Linked DNA regions of Homo sapiens: region 2 is linked to region 1. The links come from fine-mapping of genetic effects on plasma protein levels. A gene starts in region 1. The other region holds a variant in brackets. All regions are shown on one strand. Distances are from middle to middle.

Evidence for each region. A credible set is the group of variants that fine-mapping cannot tell apart. PIP is the chance, under the fine-mapping model, that this variant and not a neighbour inherited with it causes the effect. The UK Biobank Pharma Proteomics Project read protein levels with antibody pairs (Olink). The fine-mapping took linkage between variants from a reference panel, not from the people measured, so its PIPs are less certain.
Region 2: its variant is the best candidate, but not a certain one, in a credible set for the plasma level of the CAPS protein (UK Biobank, PIP 0.57).

The regions. Positions count from the first base shown.
Region 1 is chr19:5,910,614-5,924,289 of GRCh38, reverse strand. CAPS (calcyphosine) reads right to left here and starts at 10,036. Exons shown (of 5, transcript NM_004058.5): 1 at 9,981-10,036; 2 at 9,801-9,905; 3 at 9,550-9,727; 4 at 9,144-9,350; 5 at 8,079-9,069. The coding sequence starts at 9,883. The coding sequence ends at 8,968. It overlaps VMAC (vimentin type intermediate filament associated coiled-coil protein), which reads right to left. Exons shown (of 2, transcript NM_001017921.4): 2 at 13,437-13,676. It overlaps RANBP3 (RAN binding protein 3), which reads left to right. Exons shown (of 17, transcript NM_007322.3): 12 at 376-478; 13 at 987-1,096; 14 at 2,969-3,089; 15 at 5,652-5,794; 16 at 6,310-6,496; 17 at 6,637-8,151. The coding sequence ends at 6,680.
Region 2 is chr19:5,930,169-5,946,248 of GRCh38, reverse strand. It overlaps RANBP3 (RAN binding protein 3), which reads left to right. Exons shown (of 17, transcript NM_007322.3): 4 at 4,414-4,450; 5 at 4,542-4,628; 6 at 12,770-12,835; 7 at 13,705-13,797; 8 at 14,718-14,845. Among named protein-coding and RNA genes, the nearest start is that of CAPS, 24 kb to the right of the region's middle. RefSeq lists an enhancer at 1,131-1,771 and a silencer at 6,295-6,475. The variant C/G (reference allele first, on the strand shown) is at 9,021.

The DNA of each region.
Region 1 (13,676 bases):
CTGCGTGAGGGCCTGTCCTGAGCCGCCTGGTCACTCTAGCTCTGTCTGGAGTTAGGCTGCATTAAGTACTCTGCAGCTTCTCTTCCTTCGTGGCCACGCTGTGCTTTTTCTATTTCAATGAAATGTTCAAAGTCTTGCCTCACCCAGACGGAGTGACCAGTGTGGCTCGAGGGGACTGTCGGCTGGTGGCACTCACCCCGTAGTGATGCCTGAGGGACCACGTGGGGAGCTCCCAGGCAGTTCAGGGTGTCACCGGGAGTGGGCAGGAGTGCTGGGGGCAGCGTAGTGTTGGGGGCCAGGCAGAGAGGTGCTCAGAGCTGCTGCTGAAGGACCACACAAGTGCCCTCTTCCTTGTATGCTTTTGTGTCCCTGCAGAGCCCCCCAAAATTAAACGAGGTCAGTTCAGATGCCAACAGGGAAAATGCAGCTGCCGAGTCAGGGTCTGAGTCCTCGTCCCAGGAGGCCACCCCTGAGAAAGGTATGTTAGCGTCCCACCACAGCATGGGGCTCATGGTAGGTCATCTTGGGGGATGCTGGGTCCATTCACACCCCCAGCCGGGAGGGATAAGGGGCCCGACTCCCGCAGCAGTAACAACCACATGTGAACCAGCTCCAGGGCCCTGCCTTGCAGTGAGCAAGGGTTTGTGATAAAGAACTCGAGGGCCTGTGTCGCCTTGTGGCCGTGGGGAGGGTGGGGAGGCGCAGGCAGCAGGCGTGGAGGAGTCCCTCACTGTCCCCCCGTCGACTGCTCGGCACGAACACGAGAGTCTGGGGCCACACTTGGCCCCCAGATGGTCTCCCTGCAGCTTCTGAGGCCATATGCTCTGGCTGTGTCTAGGGTCCACTTGGGTTGCCGGGGCAGGCCTGCCAGGGGCAGCAGGCGTCCTTGAGACCAGAACCAACCCTCTCATCTCCTGTCGGATGAGGGGAGATGGCTCTCCTCTCGCCAAATAATCAGTCAGTCTTTTTGGCCAATAACTTTTCAGAGTCCCTGGCTGAGTCGGCAGCCGCCTACACCAAGGCAACAGCGCGGAAGTGTTTGTTGGAAAAAGTGGAAGTCATCACCGGGGAGGAGGCGGAGAGCAATGTGTTACAGGTGAGGGGCCGGCCCCTCCTCGGTGGCCCTGGGTCTTCCATGCACCTGGGGGTCCAACCGCAAGGGCTGGGCCCACATCCTCTGAGCACACAGGCCTGCCCCTGAGATGACGGAGGGGCCACTGGCCCCACGCTCTGGGACTTTGTTGGTGGCGTTTGTAGAGAGAGCTTAGGCTCAGGGGCTTCTTGCATGTCTTTGGTTTCAGAGGAGGAGGATCTGTTTGAGACATTCTTTGTTTTGTTTTAATTTTTTTTGAGACAATGTCTTACTCTGTCACCCAGGCTGGAGTACAGTGGCACAGTCTCGGCTCACTGCAACCTCTGCTTCCTGGGTTCAAGGGATTCTTGTGCCTCAGTCGCCTGAGTAGCTGGGATTACAGGTGTGCACCACCACGCCAGGCTAATTTTTGTATTTTTAGTAGAGACGGGGTTTCCCCATGTTGGCCAGGCTGGTCTCAAACTCCTGACCTCATGTGATCCACCCGCCTCGGCCTCCCAAAGTGCTGGGATGACAGGCGTGAGCCACCACGCCCAGCCCGAGACATTTTTGATGGTTCAGGGAATGACAAAGACTGTCATACCAAACATATTCTCTTGTCGCCCAGAGCTGGCAACTGTATTATTTGTCACCTGGCATCCTGTGGTGTCTTCGTAGGGAAAAGATCAGGTGCGGCCAGAGGTTCCACCCCACCGTCCCCTCCTGGCATCCCCCATTCCTGCTCCTCAGGCCGCACCACCCGGCTTGGGCAGCATCCATGTGCTTCCTCTCCCGTGGCACATAAGCAGGTGTCTGTGTCTGTAAACCGGGTGGCGTATCGTGGCGTTCTTAAGAGCACTGTTCTTTTTTCCCACTTACCACTTTGTCATCTGTTCATGTTGAAAGAGATTGACTTAGGGGGTATGTGGAAAGCCATGTAGGGGTGTCTGTCTCGTATTTTTCTTTGTTTATATATACAAAACTGCTGTATTGAAATATAGTACAAATGCTATATAATCCATCCTTTTAAAGCATACAATTCCGTGGTTTCTAGTATATTCACAGAGTCAGACAACTTTCACCAGAATCTAACGTACAACATTTCTGCCCCCAAAAAGAACACTGTCCCATTCCCCCAGAAAGAGCATTGTCCATTCGCAGTAACTCCTCCTCCCTCCCCAGCCCCTGGCAGCCACAGATCCACTTCCTGTCTCTGTTTTTTGCCTGTCCTTGACATTTCATATAAATGGCATCAACGCACTATGTGGCCTTTCGTGTCTGGCTTCTCTCGCTGAGCCAGAGGTTCATCCACGTTGCAGCGGGGGTCGGAGCCTTGTTCTTTATTAAGACTGAGTGAGATGCGCTGTAGGGGCGGACCATGTGTGTCACTCCATTCCTCCTTGAGACTTGGCTACCGTGAATGATGGTGCTGTGCACGTTCATGTGCGATCTGTGTGTGAACACGAACAAATGTTCCATTTCTCTTGGGTACATACCGAGGAATGGAATTGCTTGGGCATGTGGTAATTCCTTGTTAAGCAGTTTGAGGAGCCGCCAGACTCTTCCACAGCAGTGGCACCATGCGGCCTTCCCGCCAGCAGTGTGTGAGGGTTCCAGCTTCCCCACATGGGTATAGCCGTCCTAGAGTGCGCAGAGAGGCTTCTCACCGTTGTTTTGCTTTTCATTTCCTTAGTGATTCTTTTAATTTCAGATACCCCTTATACAATGTAAAGCCTGTTCTAGCTTGAGGGCAGGACAAAAAACTGACCAAGGTGGCCCCCAGGCCGTCGTTGGCTGGCCCTGGCAGTCCCCACAGGCTAAAGGGCGACTCTCAGGGTGTGGCTGCAGCAGGACACCAGCTGGGGTCCCTGCTTACCGGCGGCCACTGTGTTCCAGATGCAGTGCAAGCTGTTTGTCTTTGACAAGACCTCACAGTCCTGGGTGGAGAGAGGCCGGGGGCTGCTCAGACTCAATGACATGGCGTCCACCGATGACGGCACACTACAGTCCCGACTAGGTGAGCTGCCGACGGCGGGGGCTGTGGCCGGGTCCCCATGGGGAGGGCTGGGGACTATGCAATTCCAAAGGGAATGAAGCGGGGGAGATCCTGACCCTACCCTTGTGAGAGTCAAGGCACAGAGTCGGTCTCCCATGAGAGCCGCCCCCCAAACCCCCTCCCTGCACCCAGCCCTCAACACCACCCTCACACACTGGCTCCAGCTGCCAGCTCGTCCGTGACCCTCTTAGTGTCAAAATGGACAAAAGTCTATGGAAGTTTTTAAGCTGATTTTCTGACAAAGTGGCAGGTTTATGATAGAAAGGAAAATGAAATCAAACATCAAGTCTAATCTCTTGATAAAGACAAATTTTGGCCAGGCGCAGTGGCTCACGCCTGTAACCCCAGCACTTTGGGAGGCCAAGGTGGGCGGATCACCTGAGGTCAGGAGTTCAAGACCAGCCTGGCCAACATGGCAAAACCCTGTCTCTACTAAAAATACAAAAATTAGCCGGGCATGGTGATACATGTCTGTAATCCCAGCTACTCGGGAGGCTGAGGCAGGAGAATTGCGTGAACTTGGGAGACGGAGATTGCAGTGAGCCGAGATTGAGCCACTGCACTCCAGCCTGGGCGACAGACCAAGACTCCATCTCAAAAAAAAATAAAATATACTGTTTTTGAAAAGCTTTCATGTTAATATTCCATTGACAGTCAATGGACTTTTCCCTATTGGTGGACATTTAGCTTGGAGTACCTGCATACACACACCCACTTAAGGAAATCAGCCTGTGTGTGTGCACATTTGAAATGTGGGCGTGTCTTTTTTTTCCTTCTAAAGCTGATTTCACTCCATCACCCAGGCTGGAATACAGTGTGATCATCGCCTCAAATTCCTGGGCTCAAGTGATCCTCCCACCTCAGCCTCCTGAGTAGCTGGGACTACAGATGCACCACCACGTCTGGCTAATGTTTTTATTTTTGTCTTTATAAAGACAGGTCTCCCTGTGTTGCCCAGGCTGGTCTTGAGCTCCTGGCATCAAACAGTCCTCCCACCTCAGCCTCCCAAAGCGCTGGAATTACAGGCGTGGGCCACTGCGCTGGGACCATCTTTTTGTTTTATCTTCCCAAATCAAAGTGTCTTCTGGCCTTTTCATAAATATGGGTTTCAGGCCCAGCAGTAACTCAAGCAGCCCCCTTGAAGGGTAGTGTTCATGCACTTCAATCAGAAACACTGCTCTGGTCAGAACAGACAGGGGATGTCCCTGCAGGCTGGGACTGCTCTTTTGTTCCCCATGGACGTCTTTTTTTTTTTTTTTTGAGACGGAGTTTTGCCCTTGTTGCCCAGTCTGGAGTGCAGTGGCTTCGTTTCGGCCCACCGCAGCCTCCACCTCCCAGGTTCACGCGATTCTCCTGCCTCGGCCTCCCGAGCAGCTGGGCTTATAGGCACCCGCCACCAAGCCTGGCTAATTTTTTTATACTTTAAGTAGAGACAGGGTTTCTCCACATTGGTCAGGCTTGTCTCGAACTCCTGACCTCAGGTGATCTGCCCACCTAGGCCTCCCAAAGTCCTGGAATTACAGGCTTGAGCCACTGTGCCCAGCCTTATGGACGTCTTCTTGTGTTTTTCCTTTTGTCTCGTGGAAATGTTCAAATGTCCATGGAAAGAGAGGGCATAGAGCCCTGAGCCCCCAGGTCATCCCCTCTGCCTGGGTCATCAGCCTGTAGCCCCGTGGCAGCAGTACCCTCCCCAGCTTCAGGGAGAGCAAAATCACCTCTGTCTTTCTCCCACTCGGCCTCTGAGGTGGGCACCTGGGCTCAGGGAGGTCTGTTCGCTGGGCCAGGGCAGGGGGACAAGTTTCTGACCGTCTCCAGGCCTGCTCCAGTGGGGAGAGGCGGCTGGCAGGAAGGTAGGGGCTTGGCTGAGTCCACGGGGTGGGCCCAGGCCAGGCGCAGGGGTGTTGCATCCTCTAGAAGAGTCAGGGCCCTCCCATTTTCCTCCGTAATCTGCTGCCCACAGTCCTCTCGTCTCCTCTCCATGGAAGCGCTAAGCTGCGGTCCTACTCTGCCTTCTCCTAAGGAAACCAGAGGGCAGGGCTGGCCCACTCAGGGGAGGCCAGTCAGGAGGACGTGGACTCCCATGGAGGCCGATGTCTCACACACACAGAAAGCGCATGCACCTTGAGTGTCAGCCCCTGCCTCCCGCAGCCCACCCCGTACTCCTCTCTAATCCCCCCTTCTCCAAGGGAACTGCCATCCTGGTGCCCACCTGTGTGGACCAAACACAACCTCCCACAAGCTGCATGTGGCCTCTGGTCACTGATCTGCAGCACCAGCCTGTGCAGCCACCTGCAGTTGTGGCCTTCAGTGGTCCAGGCTTGGGGAGGAGGAGCCCCGCCCCGGGAGCAGGTGTGCCAGGGCTGGCCTCAGGGAGAAGTCTTGCTCTGTGGGTGGGTCCTGGGAGGATCATGGGCTTTTGCGCGGTGATGTCGCTTTCCATCTGGACTGTGTTGGCTCTTGGAGCTGGCTGTTTGTGAGGGGGCCGGTGTGGGGGCCAGGGCTGAGTGGCCTTGTTGGTTGTAGTGATGCGGACCCAGGGGAGCCTGCGACTGATCCTCAACACCAAGCTGTGGGCCCAGATGCAGATCGACAAGGCCAGCGAGAAGAGCATTCGCATCACAGCCATGGACACCGAGGACCAGGGCGTGAAGGTCTTCCTGATCTCGGTGAGCCAGCCACGCGGGTGCATCTGGGACCCCTCATCCTGCCAGCCCTGTGGGGGTTCCTGGGCACACAGATCAGGCAGGACGGTGGGGAGGGGAGGGGGGAGGGGCTTCAGTTGCTTCCTGGGACACAAGAAGCACTATGGGACCCGCCAGTCCCAGCCTTCAGGAATAGAGATCATGGTCCTTGTCCTCTTCTCAACCCAGAGAAGCCGCTGGGGTTTGGCTGAGGGGTTGTGATGTGTTCAGGGCTAACAGCCCTGTGGGGCGGTCACCTCTCTCCTATGTCATGGTGTCACAGTCGAGTCCACCAACCCTGACCTCTGGGATATTCCCAGCCACCTGGGAGTGGTGGCATCCTTTCGGGGAGAGGCCGGCAGGCCCAGGGCCAATGGCCTCCCCACAAGGCCTTGTGGCAGTGTCACCTCTGAACCTTGGGACTTGGCACTTGTGTTCTGCAGAAGGCAGGAGGGGGTAGGACTGGGGTCCGGGGGTCTCATACCCTCCTCCCTTCCCAGGCCAGCTCCAAGGACACAGGTCAGTTGTATGCAGCCCTGCACCACCGCATCCTGGCCCTGCGCAGCCGCGTGGAGCAGGAGCAGGAGGCCAAGATGCCCGCGCCTGAGCCTGGGGCAGCCCCATCCAACGAGGAGGACGACAGCGACGATGACGATGTCCTGGCTCCTTCAGGGGCCACCGCAGCTGGTGAGTCGGGTGGTCCCTACCCTGGGGGGGATAGAAAGAGCTGCCCGCCATCCTTGATCCAGTGCTGATCTCCTGGCGGGGGTGGCCAGACCTGGGAAGTGCGGGCTCCATCCTGATGCGGGGCTGCTGCTTCCCTGCAGGTGCTGGTGACGAAGGGGACGGGCAGACGACCGGGAGCACATAGCGGCCGGGAGCCCGGCTGCACACCAGGCTGCTGCTTTGTCCGTCTATCCACCCGCCCACCCGCCCCCACCCCACCGGCAGCGTCCAGGTGCGGGGCCGGGAACCACACACCCCACTGGGCCGGCCACAGTCTGGACCCGCACGTCCTGTTCAAAAGCAGACTCGGGAACTGCCTGAATGTGGTTTGGGACACGAGACCTCATCATATTGATGAGCGAACAAACAAGAACATTTCCTCCCTCCCCTCCTTTGAATTGAAATGGCACATTAAGACTTGTCACGGCTTCTCACTGGGACTGGAGACCTCGTTCCTTCACCCCGCGTGTCGCCAGCCTCTGGGTCCAGCCAGAGCCCCTGGCTTCTCCGCCACCCACACCCTTCCCACCCTGCTGTGGGGCCCTGCCTTTGTGGGGAGCAGCCAGCCCTCTGCCCCTGCCCAGGGCTCCCCAACTATAGGCCTGGGACCCCCGCCCAGCTTGGGGGGCTGCTCGTACGAGTGTAGACACTGGGCCCATTGGACGTGCTGTTAACTACTATCTTCATTTCCCACTTCCCCTCTCTGATTGGGGGTGTATATTTTACATCTTTTTTTCTTTTTATTTTCGAAGGCTTTGTTTTGGTTTCTTAGGTTAAGATGCTCTCGAGCGTTGAGCAGGCACAGCTCTGTCGAGGTCCCTGTCCCCCACCTGTGGTTCTGGCCTCTGAGGTTGGGGGACTACTTGTTTCCCACCCCAGGTTCCTCCAGGCCAAGTCATGGGGTGATGAGGAGTTGGGGCCCTGTCTGTCCTAGGCCTGGAGAGTGCCTGTCTGGGAAAAGGTCACTGGACCTGGAAGGGTCCCCAGGGTCCCCTGACTCCCGTCTCCATCTGTCACGTGGTTCACCATCATCAGGCACCAGGCGCAAACTGCTTCCCGCTGTTGGCCATCCCTTCCCCAGCCACAGGTGTCCCTGCCCCCAGGACAGTCCAGGGCCAGGGGCTTCTGTGAGAGGCAGAGGGGGACCCTCACCAAATCTTGGTGGAAGAGCCCAGGGGCTGGTCCCAGAACAGGCAGTCTCACAAGCACGCAGCACACTGGAGTGGACGCCTGTGCCCACCCGAGCCTGGAGCATGGCCAAGAGCCAGCTTGCACCACCCACCTGGGAGGCCGAGGAGGAGGTCCCCTGGGCACAGGGCCTCTTTGGGACTTCAGAGGAAATCTCCCAGTCCCACTCTCGGAGGGTTAAGAGAAGGCCTCCTGCAGCTGTGCCGTCCACACCTCTAGGTCGCCAGAGCCCTGGCCCCCAGCCCCCAGCAAGCCTGAGCCCGGGAAGAACCAGAGGCCCTCCCGAGAGACCCAGTCACACGTCTCTGCTTTAAGCCTTAGCCAGCTAGTGACGAGTACAACGAGATAACGCCCATGTGTTTTGGAACATTTATGTAAGATTGTCATATGAAATGTATTTGGGAACTACATTAAACTTTTAACTAAAACCCTGGCCTCTGCATGCCCCAGGGGCCTCAGGAAGCCCCTGACCAGGAACGGCCTCCACCTCCCCGGGCGAGGACCTCCAGCAGCCTGGGGCCTCATGCTCCCACCCAGCGTGTCACCAGTGCTGGGGTCCAGCCACAGCCCTGTTCTCTCCACCACCACCCGCACTTTACCCCCACCCCTGCTGCAAGGCCCCGCCGGTCTGCCCCCGCCCAGAGCTCCCAGCCTCGGGCCGCTCACCAGAATGTAGATACTGGGCCCGCTGGACATGTTACCTGCTATTTTTATTCCCCATTTGCCATCTTCTGATTGGGGGTTGATGTTTTACAGATTTTTTTTTCAAAGGCTTTATTTCAGTTTCTGAGGTTAGGATGCCCCTGTGCCCCTCGCTCCACACCTGGGCAGGTCTAAACTTCCTTCCAGGATGGCCTCCACACACAGCCTCCCACCTGGGGTCACCTGGCTTCCTGGGGGACCCGCAAGGGAGGGGCAGGGAGCAGCAGTCCGGGTGCGGGGATCGGGGGACCTCGGCGGGGGCATCCACAGGGGCTGCAAGATCTCTGGTCAGCATGGCGTGGGTGGGGAGAGCGTTTCTCCCTGGGGTCCTGAGCCAGTGACTCCTGTTAGGACCTTTGTCCCACCTCCGCCTGGTGGACCGGCAGGGACCTGGTCTAGCCAGTCCTGCAGCCTCCATTCCCCCACCTGCCCCTCCCCGCTCTGTGGTGTGGCTGCCCAGGAGAGAAGGGGCCCAGGGAAGGGAGGTCTCCGGCAGGGGTGGGGAGTGACAGGCCAGGGCAGCAGGGCTGAGCCGGAGCTGCTCACAGCTGCCAGGCACTGGTCATCATGGCCACGAACTCCTCATCCGTGTTCATGGAGGCACTCACGCCGCTGTAGTAGTCCTGGAATTCCGCCAGTGTGACCTGGGAACAGAGGGCCGTGAGGGGGCACGGCCGAGGAACTGCCTGGGGAGGGGGCCCCCCGCGCAGCCACCCACCTGCCCGTCCTTCTCAGAGGAGTCGAAGTTGTCCAGGAAGCGGCGCAGCACCTCGTCCTCGGTCCACTCCCCACTGCGCACCTTGGGGTGGGCACGGCCACTGTACACCCCGCGGAGGTCGTCCACCGTCACGACGCCGTCCCCACTGCGGTCCAGCTTGGCAAATGCAGCTGCGATGACAGCCTCCCGGGCCTGGGACATGGGGGGCTGGGACAGGAGGTGGTGACTGGGGGTGGTGGGTAGCACACCCAAACCCCCAAGACGCTGTGCAGAGCACTGGGGCTGTATGCCCCAGCAGGCGCCTCTTAACAGCAGCTCTTAGGGAGGAGTCCCCGTCTCCGCATCTCAGCATCCTCTGTCGCCCCATGCCCAGGGCACACGCCTTGACTGTGAGGTGGGGGCTCACCCGCAGCGCCCGAAGGAACTCCTCCAGATCCAGCGTCCCGCTGCCATTGCGGTCCCACTTCCTGCACACACCCTCTGCCTCCGCCTGGTCCAGCACCAGCCCGAGTTTGGCCAGACCCTGCCGGAACTCATCAGCGTCCAGGGATCTGCTCCCGTCCCGGTCTAGTTGGCGGAAAAACCTGGAGGCAGGGGACACGGTTGGAACAGTGGTCTCAGGGGCCGGGGTCAGGAAGGTGAGAGGGGACAGCTCACCTGGCCAGGCCCTGGATGCCCGAGGCCCCGCGGGACAGGCACTGTGCCCGGAGTTTCTCCATGGTGGCATCCACGGCGTCCATGCTTGGTCTGGGCTCTGGGCAGCTGGAAGGGAGAGAGGTCAAGGTGGGGACTCCCGCAAGCCCACCCTGGCCGACTGCCCCTTGTTCAGATGCTCACCTGGCCTGCGTCTGTCCCAGAGTCCTGCCTGCGGGGCCTTGTGTTAGCTGTGTTGTGCCTGGGGAGACTGTTGCTAGTGGAAGGTGCCTCTGGAGATGGGGTGGGGCCCAGCTGCATGAATGCACTGTGCTGGGCAGTGGGGAGTGGGGGAGGGATGGGTGCGCCCAGCCTGACTGCTTACTCAACTGCCAGCCCCACAGGGCCTGGGACAGAGCCAGATCCCTGTGGCACTGCATCCCTTCCTGGCTCCAAGGAGGAGGGGCAGGCCACTGCCCTGCAGGGGCTGAAATGCCCTGGATGGAGACAAGTCCGTGGCTGGGGAGGCTTGACGCATGATTCCTGTGTGACCCTGGACAGGTCCCTTTCCCTCTCTGGCTTCACAGGGGCTTCTCAGCCCGAGCCAGGGCTGACAAAATTGCTGAGGAATCAAAGTTCAAAAGGGCCCCAGGTTCTGACCGGCCACTGCGGCTCATGCCTGAAATCCCAGCACTTTGGGAGGTCTAGGTGGGAGGATCACTTGAGCCCAGGAGTTTGGACCAGCCTGGGGAACATATAGAGAACTTGTTTCTATTGTACAGCAACAAAAATGCCCCAGGTGGGCTGGGCGCGGTGGCTCATGCCTGTAATCCCAGCACTTTGGGAGGCCGAGGTGGGCAGATCACAAGGTGAGGAGTTTGAGACCAGCCTGACCAACATGGTGAAACCCCGCCTCTACTAAAAATACAAAAATTAGCCGTGCATGATGGTGGGCGCCTGTAATCCGAGCTACTTAGGAAGCTGAGGCAGGAGAATCGCTTGAACCCAGGAGGTGGAGCTTGCAGTGAGCCAAGATTGCACCACTGCACTCCAGTCTGGGCGACAGAGCAAGACTCCATCTCAAAAAGAAAAAAAAAAAAAAAGCCCCAGGTGGCCCAGGTCCTGGGGCCCTAAGACCTCCCACCCAGGCCCACCTCCAAGGGCAGGTCCTGCAACCCACAGAGACTGAGCTGAGCCTGAGGGACACCTCTGCTCACTGCCACAAAGCTTGTCACTGGCCGTTGTTAGGAGCCAGTCCCAGGATTTCTGTCTTTACGGATCTTTTGTTGTTGGTTTTCAGGCCTGAAACGTGACTTAGTGGGCTGGCTCCTGACAAGGTGGTGAGCCAGAGGTTGTGACCCCGAGTGGAAGAGCAGCCCTGATCCTGGACATAAACCTCAAGAGACGAAGCCACCTCACTGAAGGCCTTCAACGGAGACATCGGATATACCTGCCCGCTAAGATAGGTGGGTTTTCCAGGACTTGAAACGTGGGCCCTGTTTGAGGACCCACTGTTCGCCCCGACCCAAGGATCATCAATCGGAGCCTTCTCCAAGCCTGGCTTTACCTCGCTCACAGCACAATTATATTGTCAGAAGTTGCCTTGCCTGAGCGCGGTGGCTCATGCCTGTAATCCCAACACTTTGGGAAGCCAGGGCAGGAAGATCACTTGAGCCCAGGAGTTTGAGACCCGCCTGTGCAACATAGTGAGACCCCCCCATCTCTACAAAAACTACAAAAAATTAGCCAGGCATGGTGGTGTGTTCCTGTAATCCCACCTACTTGGAAGGCTGAGGCAGGAGGATCACTTGAGCCCGGGAGTTGGAGGCTGCAGTGAGCTATGATCGCACCACTGCACTCCAGCCTGGGTTACAGAGCAAGACGCCCGCCTCTTAAAAATAAGTAAATAAACTGGCCGGGCACGGTGGCTCACGCCTGTAATCCCAGCACTTTGGGAGGCCGAGGCGGGCAGATCATGAGGTCAGCAGTTCGAGACCAGCCTGGCCAACATGGTGAAACCCTGTCTCTACTATAAATACAAAAATTAGTCAGCCGGGTGCGGTGGCTCATGCCTGTAATCACAGCACTTTGGGAGGCCGAGGCAGACAGATCACCTGAGGTCAGGAGTTTGAGACCAGCCTGGCCAACATGGTGAAACCCTGTCTCTACTTAAAATACGAAAAACTAGCTGGGCGTGGTGGTATGTGCCTGTAATCCCAGCTACTCGGGAGGCTGAGGCAGGAGAATTGCATGAACCTGGGAAGCGGAGGTTGCAGTGAGCCGAGATCGTGCCATTGCACTCCAGACTGGGGGACAAGAGCAAGACTTTGTCTCAAAAAAAAAAAAAGAAAATTAGCCAGGTATGGTGGCGGGTGCCTGTAATCCCACCTACTCCAGAGGCTGAGGCAGGAGAATCACTTGAACCCAGGAGGCAGAGGTTGCAGTGAACCAAGACCATGCCACTGCACCACAGCCTGGGCGACAGAGTGAGACTCTGTCTCAAAAATAAATAAATAACTTAAAAAAAGAGGCCAGGGCTGGGCGCGGTGGCTCACAGCTGTAATCCCAGCACTTTGGGAGGCTGAGGTGGGCGGATCACTTGAGGTCAGGAGTTCAAGACCAGCCTGGCCAACATTTTGAAACCCCATCTCTACTAAAAAAAATAAATAGCTGGGCATGGTGGTGCATGCCTGTAATCCCAGCTACTCAGGAGGCCAAGGCAGGAGAATCACTTGAACCCTGGAGGCAGAGGTTGCAGTGAGCCTAGATCACACCACTGTACTTCAGCCTGGGTGGCAGGGTGGCAGAGCCAGACTCCGTCTCAAAAAAAAAAAAAAAAAAAAGTTGCCTTTGGAGTCTGAAACCAATCTGTAGGTTACAGGCATCCCAGCATCTTGATTCAGGCCACCACTGATGTAACATCATCAGTTTTATGAGAAATCATGGTGACATCTGGCTGCCAAAATCCTGGTGGCTCACTGCAATCCAGAATTATTTAAATAGGCAGAGAAATACTTTCATGTCTATGAGTGTTACAAGCAGCATTTTTTTTTCTGTGTAGAGAACTATAAAATATAACCACTATTACTGAAGTGCTGTTTTGGCATCTCATTTGTAAATGTTTAGTAAGAATTTCTTGGGAGGCCAATGCGGGAGGATCACTTGAGGCCAGGAGTTCAAGACCAGCCTGGGCAATGTAATGAGACCTTATCTCTAGAAAAAATGCAAAAACGCAGCCAGGCATGGTGGCATATGCCCATGGTCCCAGCTACTTGGCAGGCTGAGGTAGCATGATAGCTTGATCCCAGGATTTTTTTTTGAGACGGAGTCTCCCTCTGTCGCCCAAGCTGGAGTGCAGTGGTACAATCTCGGCTCACTACAGCCTCCATCTCCCGGGTTCAAGTGATTCTCCTGCCTCAACCTCCCGAGTATCTGGGATTACAGGCACGCGCCACCACACCCGGTTAATTTTTGTGTTTTTAGTAGAGACGGAGTTTCACCATGTTGGTCAGGCTGGTCTTGAACTCCTGGCCTCAGGTGATCCACCTGCCTTGGCCTCCCAAAGTGCTGAGATTATAGGTGTGAGCCACTGGCCCAGCCAAGACCAGGATTTTGAGGCTGCAGTGAGTTGTGATCACACCATTGCACTCCAGCCTGGGCAACAGTGAGACTTTGTCTCTTTAAAAAAAAAAGAAAGAAAGAAAGAAAACAGAATTTCAGCAATAACTTCCCCCAGAATTGGAAGTGGCCCTGGCCCTCCAGACCCGGAGTGTGTTCCCTTCACACCTCTGGGCCTCTGTTTGTTGTTGTTGTTGTTGTTGTTGTTGTTGTTGTTGTTTTCTTTGAGACTGAGTCTCACTCTGTCTCCCAGGCTGGAGTGCAGTGGTGCAATCTCCACTC
Region 2 (16,080 bases), 21 kb before region 1:
TGAACTGTGTTGTAGGAGACACCTCTGAGATCATTTCCCTATGTGATAGAACAAAACAGGGTAGCTCCCGAGAGGGGCTGGGATAGGGAGTGAGCATGAACTTACCCTAGAGGTGGTGCTCACAGCATCTCAGACACGCAGGGACCTGGAGGGAGGGCGCCCACGGAGGAGCAACACTCAGTGAGGCAGGAGCAGCCAACATGTTCAGAAAACAGGAGGCCACATGGCCAGAGCCTGGTGGCAGAGGGGACCCTGTGCCTGAGGAGGCCACCGAGGCAGGAGGGAAAGGTACGTTCTCGGGGGGCTAGAGCTAATGGGACTTGCTGGCAGGTTGGAGGTGGTGGGTGAAGGGGAGGATGAGTGCAGAATGCCTGGGGGCACCACAGTGTTCCCGGGGCTGCTTCTAGAGCCACGAGTAGACCCCAAGAGACTGTTGGGAGCCCCGGAGCCACACTCTTGACCTGGACATGCTGCTCTGGGGAGAGCATCCATGGCATCCATGATCCCTGAGAGGCATGGGTATCGTCAAAAGAGCCCCCAAAATACGCAAAGCAAAAACGGACAGAACTGAAGGGAGAAATAGTCGAGTCAACCGTAAGAGTTGGAGGCTTCGGTACCACACTTTGAGTAATGGATAGAACATCTAGACAAGATCAGTAAGGAAACAGGACTTCAGCAACACAAAAACCAAGCAGACCTAACAGACATATAGGTCACCCCACCCAAACAGTGGGGTACACAGCCTTCTCAAGTGCACATGGAAAATTCTCCATGGGGGGCCATTTGTTAGGTCACCAAACACATCTCAAATTTTAAAGGATCAAAATATGGAGTATGTGCTCCAACCACAAGGAGATAAAATTGGAAATCAAAAACGGAAACTAGGAAATTGACACATGTGGAAATTAACCTAGATAACCACTGAGCCAGAGAGTTAGGTGTGGAGATGTCAGGAGAAACATCCCGTGCAGGGGTGAGGAGACACGAGGGAGCTCGGGGACCAGTTCCTTCTGTAAGGCCGGACTCAGGTCTTCGGCTTCTCCGTGGCCTGCAAGGGGCCTGGGATGCAGTGTCTTTTGTTGAACAAATGCTAAACGGGCTTCTACTGTGAGGTCCAGTTCCTTCCTAAGTCTAGTGGAGTCCCTGACACAACTCCCAGGATCAGAATAAGCCACAGAGAAAGAGTATAAGGGGCCTGGAGGTCACCTCACCAAGGGGTTCATTCTCGCTTGAGGGAAAAGGAGGGCGTCACTGGATGAGAGAGCAGGTCGTCTACAGAGGCCAGAGAGGGTATGGCCATCTCCTGGTCCCAGAAGTCATTTAGGAAGGGACAGATCCCCCAGGACCAGGGAGGACACCGTGTAAGGGTTTTGGTACAGTTGAAAGGCTCGTTGGATTAAAAGGGGAGAGAAAAGTCTAGAGCCACAGGATGGGACTTGGGGGTGGGGATGTCCTGGGCCTGCTGTTAGGAATGGATGGGAGGACTGGTGAGGCCAGGGAAGCCAGAGGTGAGGCGAGCAGTGCGGTGTCCGAGGAGATCGGGCTGTGCAGAGGCTGCTGGCCTCAGACAGTGACCTGCACAGAGCATTTGGAGGCCAAAGCCAGCCTACAGGGCTCTGGAGGGCATGGGTTACCCAGAGGGCAAGGAGGCTGTGTCAGGTGTTGTTTCTCACAGCTGCCTGTGCTGGGAGGCTGATGTAAGGGCCCGTCGAGGGCAGTAGCTGCCCCAGGCATGAGATGCCCAGGCTTGGCTGGATGAGCAAAGGTTTTGGCTGCCCGGGTGGGCAGATGCTGCTTCTCTGTACTTCTGTCACCTTTGCTAAGTATGAGGGCAAGCGATAGCTGGAGCCTGTACCCACCCCACAGATGTCACCCAAGAAAAGGGATGACAAGGTGGTGACAGCTCAGCACTATCAGATGCAACCCCAGGCTCTGGCATTTCTAGAAAGGTTCCCAGTCCAGGTCCCTCGCCTCCTGGCTGCACCCAGGACTCACTCCACACCCCTGACTCCCTATTCATGCCTGCCTTGAGCTCTAAAGCCCTGCCCCCAGCGTAGCCTCCAGATTTTACATCGGTTGGGAGTTTGATCTCATCAGGTGTGGGTCACGAGCATTATAATCATCTGCTCCCAGCGTGCAGGGCACTGGGCTGAGCACCTTACCTGCCCTGCCTGTCACCTCACGCATCCCTGTTTTCCAGGTGAGGAGACCGAAGGCTGGGCAAGGTAAGGTTTCACCCGTAGAAAATGGCAGAGCCGGAATACACTGAGTTCTTCCGGCCTTCAAGAGGCAGCAGGGACCAGGCAGCCTCTGCACCCCTCGTGCTTTTGGCCTGGCCGGAGTTGGTACTGACTCTAGGGCCTGGCTGCTTGATGGCATTGCGTTTTGGACTCAGTGGTATTTTCACAATTGCCCCAGTGACTAATAGAACCCACTGTTGTGTTACAAGGATTTTGTGTTTCCCACACACTTTGATGATGTCATCTCGTGGGGATAGTGATAATCAGCCCTCACTCGTACAGTCCCTTGGGAGCATTTCCAAAGCCCCCTCAGAACACGGGCCTCAAGCAAGAAGCCCAGGCTTGCTTTTCCCACACAAACCCATGTTGTCAGCTCACACGGGAGGAGAAAGTCCAGGGTAGCTTTTTTTCTGACCGTCGTGAACGAGCTATGTGACTTCAAGTCAACTTCCTACCTTCTCTGGGCTCTCACTGCCACAAGCTCCAGGCCTGGGCCTGTAAGCTAAGATGATGTTTACATTTTTAAAGGATTATAAAAGCAAAAACAAGAATATATGACAGAGACCAAATGTGGCCCACAAAGCCAGCAGTACCGACAGTCTGGCCCTTTATGGGAAAATGCATCGCCCTGACTTGAGGGGGGTCTGCCTTGGCTCCTGTGCTCCTCAGTTTTATTTATTGCAGTTTGCTTTCCCAGGCCACTCTGCAGTTTGCAAAGCACTTTCACATGCATCACCTCCCCTAAGCCCCAGCAGCTCGTCGAGGCAGGCGGGCCTCATTTGGCTAAACTTGACCTCTGAGGAGCATTTTAGAAAATAAGAAAATTGGCTTTTCTGCTTGCTCTTGCAGGGAGCGCGCCAGGAGGAGCGGCCCTCACTCATCGGTGCGCTTTGGGCTGCTAAATTCTGAGACAGGACATAAATGAGGGATTGTGTTGGGGGAGAGGATAAACACTCCTCATGTTAAGTTTTGAGTTTGTTTGTGTTTTGAGATGAGATGTGTCCTTCAGGCTGGGGTGCAGTGGCATGGTCATAGCTCACTGCAGCCTCAGACCCCGGGCTCAGGTGATCCTCCTGCCTCAGCCTCCCTGGGAGCTGGGGCTACAGGCATTCACCCCCCTGCCCAGCTGATTTTTATGTGGTTGGGTTTTTTATAAAGACAGAGTCTCACCATGTTTCCCAGGCTGGTCTCAAACTCCTGGGCTCAAGCGATCCTTCTGCCTCAGCTTCCCAAAGTGCTGGGATTACAGGCATGAGCCACTGCACCCAGTCCATTTTAAGTCCTTTTGTTTTTTTTTTTTTTTTTTTTGAGACAGAGTCTCGCTGTGTCGCCCAGGCTGGAGTGCAGTGGTGTGATCTCGGCTCACTGCAAGCTCCGCCTACCGGGCTCAAGCGATTCTTGTGCCTCAGCCTGTAGCTGAGATTACAGGCGTGCACCACCACGCCCAGCTACTTTTTTTTGTATTTTTAGTGGAGACAGGGTTTCACCATGTTGGTCAGGCTGGTCATGAGCCCATTTTAAGTCTTGGTTGCTGGTTGTTCACACTCTAAAGCTAAAGTTTGTGGAATAGGGAATTCTTCAGGAGCCTTCCCTCAGCCTGTGACTGGGCTTTGTCTTTGATGGTTCTGTTCTAAACACTTCGCAAGTGGGCTTTGGTCCAAAACATCCAAGCTCTTGCTTGCTCTGGGAATAACAGCCGACCCTGAGACAAGCATGTGCATGGTAGAATGTTCCAGGGCAAGGAAGGGAAATCGCTCCTATCCGGTGTGATGTGACCATTTTACACAAGTCCGCTGCCCTCAAGGGTGGAGAGGGTCGCTTTTCAGCTCTTGGCAGAATGAACGGGGGCCAGATGAGGTTCGGCTGTGTTTGAGTTTAGGGGTGGCAGGCCAGTTAGCGTAACCTGTGGAGAAACAAGAAACTGATCTGGGTGCTGCGGATGCTTTCCCAGCCACTGAGAGGATTCCTTGGCATGTGTTTGTGAAGCTGGGTGCAGAGGTTCATCGGGGGGATGTTTGAGCTTTAGGCTAAAATCCTGGCTCTCATTCGGGTGCTGGGCTCTGGGAACTAGCTGCCCGTGGTGCATGTTGGGATATTTGTTACGGCCCCGAGAGTTGCTCGGCTGCCGTGAGCCTGATGCCCTCTGACCCCGGCTGTGTGCTCCTTGTTTCAGAGGTCAGCTGGCGGCTCCAGTCCTGAAGGCGGAGAAGGTAAGGAGCTCTCTAACACCTTTGACCATCTTCAGTTTTAAAGACAGAAGCAACCTGATTTTTCTCCTCCTCTTCTCATCATTTTCTGTAGATTCTGACAGAGAAGATGGAAATTACTGCCCTCCTGTCAAGCGAGAAAGAACATCCTCTTTAACCCAGTTCCCACCCTCACAGTCAGGTAAAATATGCAAACTTACGGAATGGTGAAAGCGTTTATGCTTACAAACCCGCCATTCCCCTCAGTGCCGCGCATCCGTCTGCTGTGTCCTTCCTGCCCAGCTCCGGTTAGAGTCGATCTGAGGCTCGGGCTCTGTCAGGAGTGAGGTGAGAGCTTGTCCAGAGTGCAGCATCAGGGGTCCTCGTCTCGAATCAGTGACACTGACGGCATGGTGAGACTTGGTGGCCTGAGGAAGACTGTGAAGAGATCGTCCCTCTGAAATGGAGGAAAGGGGTTGACTACTGAGAGCCCTGTTGGGGCCTCTGCCTGTTAATTACATCTCCTCTTTCCAAGGCTGGACACAGACTGGGGGTTTAGGGGTGGGGTGTTCTCCCAACCCCTCAGCTGCATGCCCAGCACGGGCAGTCCAGTGCAGTAGCCCAGACACACACACGCATGTACACACAAGCATGCACACACACACGGTAACCAGCAAGCCAGGAGGCCCCAGCAGAGGCCCGTGTGTGATGCTGTGAACTCCCAGAGGAGAGGAGCTTGCGGGGGCCTGGAAGGGTGGGCCAGGCTCGGACTGTGGAGCAGGGCAGGCTAAAGGGCTTGAAGGCCCTGGACGTGAGGCCTGGTCTGAGCACAGGCCTGGAGGTCGGCCTGGGGACTCATGCAGGCTGGTACAGGAGAGAGGTTCCTGAGGCAGATAATGCCGTCAGCACTACTTAATATAACACTCAGAAAGCCCGGCCTCCTGCCATGGGCACAACTCTGCAGATTTGAGGGTAAATGCCACTGCAGGGCTATTCTCTCGTCCCCGTCTTGACTTCCCACTCTGGCATTGTCTCGTGGCCTCTGTCTTAGCTGTCTGTAGTGCCAACTTGGACATACATGAGTGTTTAGACAGGTTCTCTGGTTACCCAACTGAAATCCATTCCTGGAAAGTTCATGTAAATCATTTTACAGTCCTGAACCTTCAGGATGTCAAGTTGTTTCTGCTTACAGAAGTCACGCATGCGTTACAGGAACACACAGCGTAGGAAGCCAGGGTCCTTCCCAAGTCACCCCTCCACACCCTTGTTTTCATGCCCTTTTCCCATCACGTTGGTTTTGGACATGGCCGCGTCTTTTTGCACAGCTGCATTAGGTTTTCCAGTGCTATTACACTGTCATCTGCTGACTGGATATTGCGGAACTGTCCAGATGGCTTGCAGTCCAGGCTGCAGTTGGCATCCTTTTAATTTAAGGATCTTTGCACCTGTGGATAGGTGTTCTGTGGAATGAGGGAGCTCCACTTCCTGCTCGTTGATTTTATTCCTTCCCCCTCACTGCCCACTGCTGAACCATGCTTGCTGTATCGAAAACCAGCATAGAGAAGAGGAGGTGTTTGGGCTGTGAATGTAGGCTAAAGAGGCGAGGGACCACCATTCTTCTCCCCGGCCCTCTTCAAATCACCTCCCGTCCAGCGCAGCAGCCCCCAAGAGACACTCAGCTCTCCAGGGTAACTGGAGGCGTGAGGGGCACCAATAATTTGAACAGTGTTGTCTTTGGTTCCATTCTGCGTAGAGTGAGTTCTTCCCCTACGAATTCCACTTCATTTGTGGAAACCTGTTGGCTGGCCCACACCCTGGGAAGCAGTTGCCCTGGTGAAGGAAGATCTTAGGTGGGGGAGGGGGAACCCCATGGACAAGCCTTGACAGGTGAGGAGGAGTCAGGGCCTCCAATGTGGCCTGGAGCATCTGATATCTCCCCTGCCGGCTGCCCCTGCAGAGGTGCAGGGACAAGGGGGTGCCCCCAGTTGACCAGAGTTGACTGTAGTCATCAGACAGATCAAGGCCGTCGGGCTGGAGACCCTCGTAGTGCTGTAAAGAGTCTTGGGGTTTGCTGTTCTCGGGAAAGACTGAATGCCCTGTTTGCGTGCTGTTCCGTCTCCTCCCGTGGGACGTGAGAATCCACCCCTCAGGTGGGAGAGGTGATCTCTGAGCGTCCACCCCACCCATTCATGCTGTTTTTCCTCTTGTTCCCTCCCCCGCCTGCACCTCCTTGTCAACAGTTTCAAAAAACAATGTTTTTATGCCATCAAGCTTCTGCGAGCCATCTGCAGGCAATTCCGACTCAGAGCCAAGTGAGCCCCGGCCCCTCTGCCTTCCCGCCCGGCCTGGGGGTTCTCCTGGGAGGAAAAGCAATTGGTGTGGGAAAATCAGATCTTCAGCGGGCATTTAAAGTCAGTTCTTCTTCAGCTGTTAAAATTTTTCCCCCAACTCTTCAGCTCATAGTCTGGGGATCTGGCGTGAGATGAGGCTTCATAAGCCCTCATGTTTGTTTCTGCAAGCAGGGCCTGGTTGCATGGAGCTCTAAGTCCTCTAAAAACAACCTGTGAAGAAATGTATCACTCATTTTTCAAAATTTTATACAAGTAATGCATTCATAATTGGGGTTTTTTGGTTTTTTAGACAGACTTTCACTCTTTTTGCCCAGGCTGGAGTGCAGTGGTGTGATCTCAACTCACTGCAACCTCCGCCTCCCGGGTTCAAGTGATTCTGCTGCCTCAGCTTCCCGAGTAGCTGGGATTACAGGCGCACACCACAATGCCGGGGTAATTTTGTATTTTTTTAGTAGAGACAGGGTTTCACCTGTTGGCCAGGCTGGTCTCCAACTCCTGACCTCAGGTGATGCACCTGTCTCGGCCTCCCAAAGTACTGGAATTACAGGCATGAGCCACCGCACCTGGCCCATAATTGTTTTTTCTTTAAAGTAAATCAGAAATATTTCAACTAAAAAGAATCCCTGCCCCTTCCCCACTCACCCTGCCATCCCAAAGGTAACGCCTGTGAAGTTGGTGAATTTCTAGACCTCTTTTTTGTGCATTCTCACATTAATTTTGCTCAGACCTACCTAGATAAATATGTTTAATCACAGCTTCAAAACTTTTTGTGTGTTTTGGAGACGGAGTTTCACTCTTGTCCCCCAGGCTGGAGTGCAATGGGGCGATCTTGGCTCACTGCAACCTCTGCCTCCTGGGTTCAAGCAATTCTCCTGCCTCAGCCTCCCAAGTAGCTGGGATTACAGGCATGTGCCACCATGCCCAGCTAATGTTTTGTATTTTTAGTAGAGACGAGGGTTTCACCGTGTTGGCCAGGCTGGTCTCGAACTCCTGACCTCAAGCGAGCTTCCCGCCTCAGCCTCCCAAAGTGCTAGGATTACAGGCGTGAGCCACCACGTCTGGCCCCCAGCTTTAAAATTTTAAGGAAAGCCGCTCCCCCTTTCTGAAGAATATGGAGCCTGCCTTTTTGGTCTTTCACTGGAGAACCAACTCCAAGGTTTCCTGAAAGTTTCTCCCACGTGGCTGAAATTCCTCATAAAAGATTTAACAAGCGAGTTTAACAACCTGAATTCTGTAACCCAACCTACCATATATAAATTCATTGCCGACTTCAAAAGCATTGTGAGATAAGTTAGCTGCTGGCGTGATGTCCGTGTCAAGGGAAGAGGTGGGTTCTTATAACTCTCAGCATTGAGTTGATGGCCCCGTTTCAACAAGGCATTTTGACTCTAAAAGCAAACTGTTTTGAGCCGACCACCTGGTCTCATCCTGCAGAGGGGCTTGGTGTTTCAGGGTCCTCAGGAAGGGCACGATGTTGGTTATTCCTGGGGTGTCGCTTAGCAGGTGGTGGTCTGGATGGGGGCACAGAGCCTGCCACGGTGAGGCAGGTTCTGCTTTAGGTGATCAGTTACTAAAGCCGTGTGTCTGGACCCATTTGTGCTGCTGAGCTCTGTTACAAATCTCATGATCGCTTCTGAGGTCTGTGAGCAACGGCCTCCCTCCTGTCTCTCTCCCCACAGACCTTTCCCCTCCAGCCTCGAGCAGGGCAGCTGTTTCGCAGGCCCCGACGCGGCATGGTTTAAAGCCCCAGTGCCCTCACGCATGAAAAGGCAGTCATATCAGCCACACATCAGTTCTGCAAACCCAACTTCACATCCTTGTCTGCCTGCCTTCTGTTTTTTAGCTTTAATTTTGAAAAGCTTTAACACTTACAGAAGAATTTCTCTGTCCCTTTTGTCTGAAGACCCCATTTAGCTTTCTCCAGTCAGCTCCATGAGTCCATTAGAAAAAAGGACTGAGACCCTGGTCCTACCACACATACCTCCACTTTTATCGGGAACAGGTCTTCAGGCTTCCCTTGACTTTCATGACCTTGAGGATTACAGGTCAGCTGTTGGGTAGAAGTGTCTCAGTTGGGGCCTGTCCAGTATGTCCTGGTGGTGAGACCCAGGTGTGGCATCTTGGATGAGAATGTCACAGAAGCCATGCACAGTACTCACTTGTCCCCTTACCAGCACGGGGTGGCCGTGCTCCTCGATCAGGGTGCTGTCTGCCAGGTTTCACCACTGTAAAGCTACTTTCCC[C/G]TTTGTGCTGGATGGTTTCTGAGAGACACTTTAGACTCTGGGACTGTGTGTACCTCATCACACTCCTGCCCTCCAGTGTTCGCGCCCAGTGATGTCTTTAGAGTGATGTTTCCCGCTGACGACTGCCCCATGGGATTTTCTTCCTTTTTTTTTTTTTTTTTTTTTTTTTTTTGGAGACAGAGTCTTGCTCTGTTGCCCAGGCTGGAGTGCAGTGGCACAATCTTGGCTCACTGCACCCTCTGCCTCCTGAGCTCAAGAGATTCTCAAGCCTCAGCCTCTCAAGTAGCTGGGATTACAGGCACTCACCACCCGTGGGATACTCTGAGCACCATCCCTGCCGCGTTGATTAGTGGTGTTCACTGGAAGGAGGAGCTTGCCCTTCTCCCCACGTGCTTGTTCCTTGATCGATTGTGTCAACATAGACAGGCGAGCTTCTGTTGGCATCAGTGGGTGACCGTCTATGGTTACTGGTTTTTATTTAATGTTCAGGTTGTCCCAGATTTGGCCAGTGGAAGCCCTGTCAGGCAGGTCCCCGTTGTTCATTTGAGCACTGCCCTTACTTTGTCACAACAAGAGCCTCCCGGCTCAGCCTCTTTTCTCATCCCAGTCCTGGAATCTGCATTTCTCAGAGGCACGCTGGTTCTTCAGGGAACATGGTCTTTAGAAACCAAGGTCTGAAATCACTCCGTGCGGTACTGCGATCTCACTGACTCAGGTGTAGCCCTGCTCCCGGCCCTCCGCGGACAGAGCTGGGGACACACCTTTGTCCACATGATCTCTTACTCTCTGCCTGCCTGCCTGCCTGCATGTGGAGATGACGGACAGAGCTGGGGACACACCTTTGTCCACATGATCTCTTACTTTCTGCCTGCCTGCCTGCATGTGGAGATGACGCCAGGGGCACGTGGGTGCCTCCCTTGGTATATTCCTCCCTCTTCTGGCACTAAGAAACCGGCACCCTCTGTCCTCTGTGCATCAGGCATCACTCCCTGCCCACCGCATGGCTGAGCCTCCTCCCCACCCTGCACCAGCGCCGTCCACGCACAGACCCCAGCTCCAGCCAGGCTGCCTTCTCAGCATTTGATGCACACAGTCTCATTCCCATCCCTTCCCTGGTTAAATCGGGGCTCCCTGGGGGGCAAGCATGGCTTCCCACAGACATCACTTGGGGCTCTCTGAGGCAGGCGAAAAGCACCCTCAGACAGGGAGCCTGCCAGCTTCCCAGGAGGGCAAAGGCTGCCGGCGGGAGGGGTCCTCTTCCTCTCTGGAGTGATGCGCATCCCTCAGAGACTGGTGCAGCATCCTCTACAGGCCCACACCCTTTGGGTATGTGGCAGGCGTCGGGCTCTGGCCATGATTCAGCAGCTTGTGTTGCGACCTGTGTTGCAGAAGAAAATTTCTGGAAGGAATGAGAAGAGACCACCCTTGTTTTCGTGGAGCAGGGCCTGTGACAGGGACCTCCAGATTTTGGCTACCCCTGGAGCACGCCTTGTCTGTCTGCAGCTCTGGAGAGGGCCACGCTCTGGGCCTAGCACTAGTGGCAGGTCGGTGGCAGGGATTATCCAAGTCTCCTGCTTCCGCTTGGCAGCTCGGGCCAGCCCCCAGGCTCCCCTCAGCGTTAGCGCCAGCGCTGCACGGAGCGGAGTGTGGAAGGGCAGTAGTCAGTCTGTGACCAAAACATCAGCGTGGAGAGCCAGCTTGAAGAGCTTGCTAAAAACTATCTAAATTGTGAATTTGACCTTTTAAAAATGTATCTAAATTGCCAGTCGTCTTCTGCATAGCTCCGTGCTTTGGAAATGTAATTGAGTGTTTCCTTCGGAAAAGGAACATCTGGCGGCTCACCCCCGCATCCTGCAGGATCTGGCTCTCCTGAGTTTGTTTTTTTATGACCAGTCTGTTACGGGAGAGGCACCAGCTCTGCTAACACAGGCTGCCAGAAGCCCCTGGGGCTGGACTCCCTCATACAACTATTATAGTAAGAAGGGTTGCTGCAATCCTCTTGCTGCCCAGGCACAGCGGCGCCTCCGGGGCACAGCGGGAGAGGGGTCTTCCTTGGCCTGCTGAATCTTGATTTGGAGTCTGAAAATTTGGGCTGACAAGGTGTTTTGGGTTTTGTTGTCATCGTTTTAGTGTACAATTGAGTGGTTTTAGTACATCCACAGAGTTGTGCGACCATCACGTGATTAATTTTAGAACATTTCCATCATCCCAAAAAGAAACCTCATCCCTGTTAGTCACAGCCTGCCCCCAACCCCCTCCCTTGAGCCCTGGTAACCGCTCAGCTCCTTTCTGCTTAGTCTGGCATTTCACAGAAATGCAATCAGACAGCATGAGGGGGTGTTTTTCTTTTGATTTACACCTTTAATTTCTTCCAACAATGTTTTTGTTTTGTTTGAGACAAGGTCTCACTCTGTCGCCCAGGCTGGAGTGCAGTGGTACAGTCGTAACTCAACTGTAACCTCAAGCTCCCAGGCTCAAGTGATCTTCCCACCTCTGCCTCCTGAGTAGCTGGGACTACAGGCATGTACCACCATGCCTGGCTAAGTTTTTAATTTTTTGTAGAGTTAGGGTCTTGCAGTGTTGCCCAGGCTGATCTCAAACTCTTGGGCTCATGCAGTCCTCCTGCCTCAGCCTCCCAAAGCACTGGGATTACAGGCATGAGCCACTGCACCCGGCCCTAACATTGTTTTATAGTTTTATCTTGTGAAATGTATTCCCAAGTATTTTATTCCTTTTGGTGTTATTGTAAATGGAATTATTTTCTTAATTTTGCTTTTGGGTCATTCACTGCTAGTGTTAGAAACACAATCGATTTTTGTATATTGATCTTGTGTCCTGTAGCTTGACAAGGGGGTGAAGCTTAGCACAAACGCAGGGCTACCTCCAGGAGCCATAATGCCACAGTCTCTGTGCCTTGCCCAGGAACAGGCTTGCCTGCCTGAGTCACAGGCCTTTTATGACAATCCTTCCTGTTGTGGATCAGATTAGACCACCATCCCCACTCCCTGTATGGGCACAGTTGCCAAGACACACAGATGAAGGGGTCCATGTGGACAGGTGGCTGGGCGAGGCTGGGCTCTCGAGCCATCCCAGGAGCTCGTGGGCATTCACCTTTCCCTCTAGTTTTGTGAATTTGTCAGCCCGGACTCTGGCCCAGGGGGAGCTGGCCTCCTCCACGGTGGCCAGGAGTGCCCCCTCACTGAGACGGGAAGCTCCGCAGGCACATCTGGAAAGGGGAGGCAGGCTCACTGTGTGCCACCTTTGACCTTTTCATCACAAAAACCTGTCTCACTTCCCAGACATCTGTAGTGGTGCCAAGGTTCTTCCTGGCCACAGCCGCATCCTCTGACAGACAAGCCTTCTAGGAAAGGGAAGTGGGGCCTGAGCGCCTGTGTTCCGTGGCTCCCTGACATTCTCCAGAGCCAGGTACAGGGCCGCTGAGCAGCTCGGCTCCTGAGCCTGCAGCAGGTCATAGACAGCTGGGAGGGCGGCTGACGCCCCACCTGCCCCCATGGTCAGCAGCTGGCCCAAGAGCCATCGTTCCTCCTGCCCTTGTCTCTCCCCTCCTCCAGGCGCCTTCCAGGCCTGCTGATCGGACGAGACTTCTGTTGTAATTTGGAAATGTTCTCCCTGGTTCTCCAGGCCCGAAGTCACTGAGGCCAAGACCATAGTCCTCTCCTGCCCTTGCCCCCCAGGCCCAGCCCCAGCCCAGGCAGGCCTGCTGTTGATATTTTGTCTTGTGCTTTTAGAGGAAAGGAGCAGTGGCTTCCGGTTGAAGCCACCAACGCTGATCCACGGCCAAGCCCCCAGCGCAGGTAGGTCGTCTACCTCCCTGGGGCGGGGGGTGGCTCTCTGACGTTTTTCAGACCTCTGCTAGGCCACACCAGGGCACCGCGGGCTCAGCCTGCTTTCTAGAAAGATCACTTGTAACTTGACCCACGAGCCCTGGAAAGTTCCTTTAAAGAGAGGCTGTCTGAGCAGGGAGGTTGGGACCCCTGACTGTGAGCGTCGTGTGTTCAGAAAAGTGGGCAGTGGTGGCACGGGAGCAGGCTAGGCGGGGTGCATCGGGCGGGCTCCATGCCCAGCAGTAGCGCACTTGGTTCAGCCTGTCTGTCCTTCATGTTCTGGCCCCCACATACCACAGTGTTCGCCCCAGTTAGCAGGGTGGCTGCATTCCAGCGGCGCGCTGCTAGTGAGCCGGCTGCTAGTGAGGCTGCCGGGGATGCTGCACAGGGCAGGGCACATGCAAGGGTCCTTGTCCCATCTGCCTTTGGCAGAGGGACTTCCTCAGCATGGCTGTTTTGAAAAACAGGTGCAAAATGTGCCTGTACGTGACCCCACACCGAGTCCTGAGCCTCCAGGTAGCTGCCTGTGAATGCACTGCTCTCCTCCCACAGTCTCCACTTGACTGTTGAGTCTGCCGGCGCCCCGCCACGTTACTGTGCTAACTGGATTAATTCACAGGCGTCGGTCACTGGGAGTTTCATGTAATCACATGTAAAAATAACAGTAGCCAGATCTCCTGGCCAGCTGTTAAAAAAAGACCTCAAGTTTTTAAAAAAGTGCTTCCCTGCAAAGTCTAGCCTGCAAGGGGCATGAAATGGGATGCCAGGGGTCAGTCTCTGAAGCGCCTGGGGGCAGGCAGGGGTCCACGGGCACTGGGAAGGCCGCCTTCTGTTCCTAGGTCTGCCAAGCCAGAAGCCCAAGGAGCAGCAGCGGAGCGTGCTTCGCCCGGCAGTGTTACAAGCTCCGCAGCCAAAGGCGCTGTCCCAGACTGGTAAGAAACAGCAGCCCTGGCGCCCAGGCCCAGACGGCAGGGTAGAGCGTTCCCGAAGTCGCACCCGGGACAGCAGTGTTGCGACAGAGGTGACTGCTGAATGCACCAGAAATACAGAGAGATCAGGGAAGATGATCCTTTAAATCACCCCCCAGCCGTCTCCAGCCCCAAGCCTCCTGAGCCCTGGCAACGGAGAAGGGAGAGGCGGCTCCACAGCTTCCTCACAGCTCTCGGCTGAGTGTGACTGTGTGGGTGAAACCTGCTTTGTTCATTCACTGTCTTCATAAAAGCAGGCCGGCTCCTGGGAATGAGATTTATCCCTGTGTGTTTGCAGATAGAATTTCAGCCTCAATTTTCACAGGTTATCTTTAAAAACTTGAAAGGTCATTTTATTTATTTATTTATTTATTTATTTTGGAGATGGGGTCTTGCTCTGTCACCCAGACTGGAGTGCACTGGTGCAATCATAGCTCACTGCAGCCTCGAACTCCTGGGCTCAAGCGATCCTCCCACCTCAGCCTCCCAAGTAGCTGGGACCACAAGTGTGCACCACCACACCCAGCCAGTTTGTTTTATCTTATTTTAGAAACGAGGACTTGCTGTGTTGCCCAGGCTGGTCTCAAACTCCTGGCCCCAAGCATTCTCCCCGCTTCAGCCTCCCAAAGCACTGGGACCACAGACATGAGCCACTGTGCCCGGCAGGTTTCTCTTTTTTGTTTGTTTCTCTTGTTTTTTTTTAAATCCAAGAATTTTGGCTCTTTGTAGAGATACCAGGTCCTTCCTTAAAAAGGAGACATGTGCTGTGGGCTTTACCATGGGAGGGGCCCTAGACTAGACGTGGCCCAGCCCCTCAGCTATGTGAGTGGGGGTGGGAGGGCCGCCAAGCACCTGTGATTCCCCACTCTCCTTCCCTCCCACAGTCCCCAGCAGTGGCACCAACGGGGTCAGCCTCCCAGCAGACTGCACGGGGGCAGTGCCCGCAGCATCCCCTGACACTGCTGCATGGAGAAGTCCTTCCGAAGCTGCCGATGAGGTGTGTGCACTTGAGGTCAGTGGGTCCTGAGGCAGGGAAGCGCTGCATGCTAGGCCCCTTGGGAGCGGGAGGGCAGCCTTCCCAGCATGCTGTGGAGTCCACACGCTGTCACCTGTTCCAAGCAGTTTCCACGTGGGCCTATTGTAAGGCTCTCTGGATTTGCTCAGTAGGCTCTAAATAACAGTACCTGACAAACCAGATCTAGATTCCCAAGGGTGGTCTTGCTGGTCAGGCAGAAGAAGAGTGTCTCCCAAGCAAGCTCTGCCGGAAGGACCTGTTGCCCAGAGTTCTGCCGGAAGGGCCTGTTACCCAAGGCTGACCGCCACATGTCTCACGGGAGTGATCCTTGAGGGAGGACCTGAACCACTGCACTCTGAGGAGTCACTAGGGCCCGAGGAACGGCTGTCACTGATGGGTGTCTTGCAATGTTTAACATGAGGAATGTCTCCCCTCTCTGTGTCCACACCCAAACCACCCCTCAGAGACTCCTATCTGTGTGGTTCCAGTTGAAAATTTTTCTTTGGGAGTCATCTCAGAAATAGTTTGTTTAGGCCGGACACGGTAGCTCACACCTGCAATCTCAGCACTTTGGGAGGCCGCGGCAGGTGGATTGCTTGAGGCCAGGAGTTCAAAACCACCCTGGGCAACATAGCAAGACTCTGTCTCTACAAAAAATACACAGATTAGCCAGGCATGGTAGCATGTACCTGTAGTCCCAGCTACTCAGGATGCTGAGGCTGGAGGATTGCTTGAGCCCGGGAAGGGGAGGCTGCTGTGAGCCGAGGTCACACCACTGCATTCCAGCCTGGACGACAGAGCCAGACCCTGCCTTAAAAAAAGAAATAGTTCCATTTAAGCGGGGGTATGGTTTGGATTATATGGGCCAAAAGCTTTGTGTTTCACAGCCACTGTGAAATAAGGGCCTTTGATGAAGAGCCTCCTTTGAAGTTGGCAGAGATGGGTTTGAAGTCAGAATTAGGGTAACACCATGTGGTATCTTCTGTGTAAAAGCCAGATTGGATCTTTGTGTTTATTTTCCGCTCTGTGTCCATGGCCTGCAGTTTTATACCCTCCATCCCCAGTAGATGTTCTGGCTCAAAGGGTGAAAATGGCTGTCCACAATTAAATTTGAAAACATCCTCACGCCCTTTTTCAAACGAGTTTGCTGAATTGGAAATAGGGATCATTTCCACCGCATTCTGCGGCTTGGAAGCTTTGACTGCTGAGGTCTCCTGAGCAGATCAGGTGTG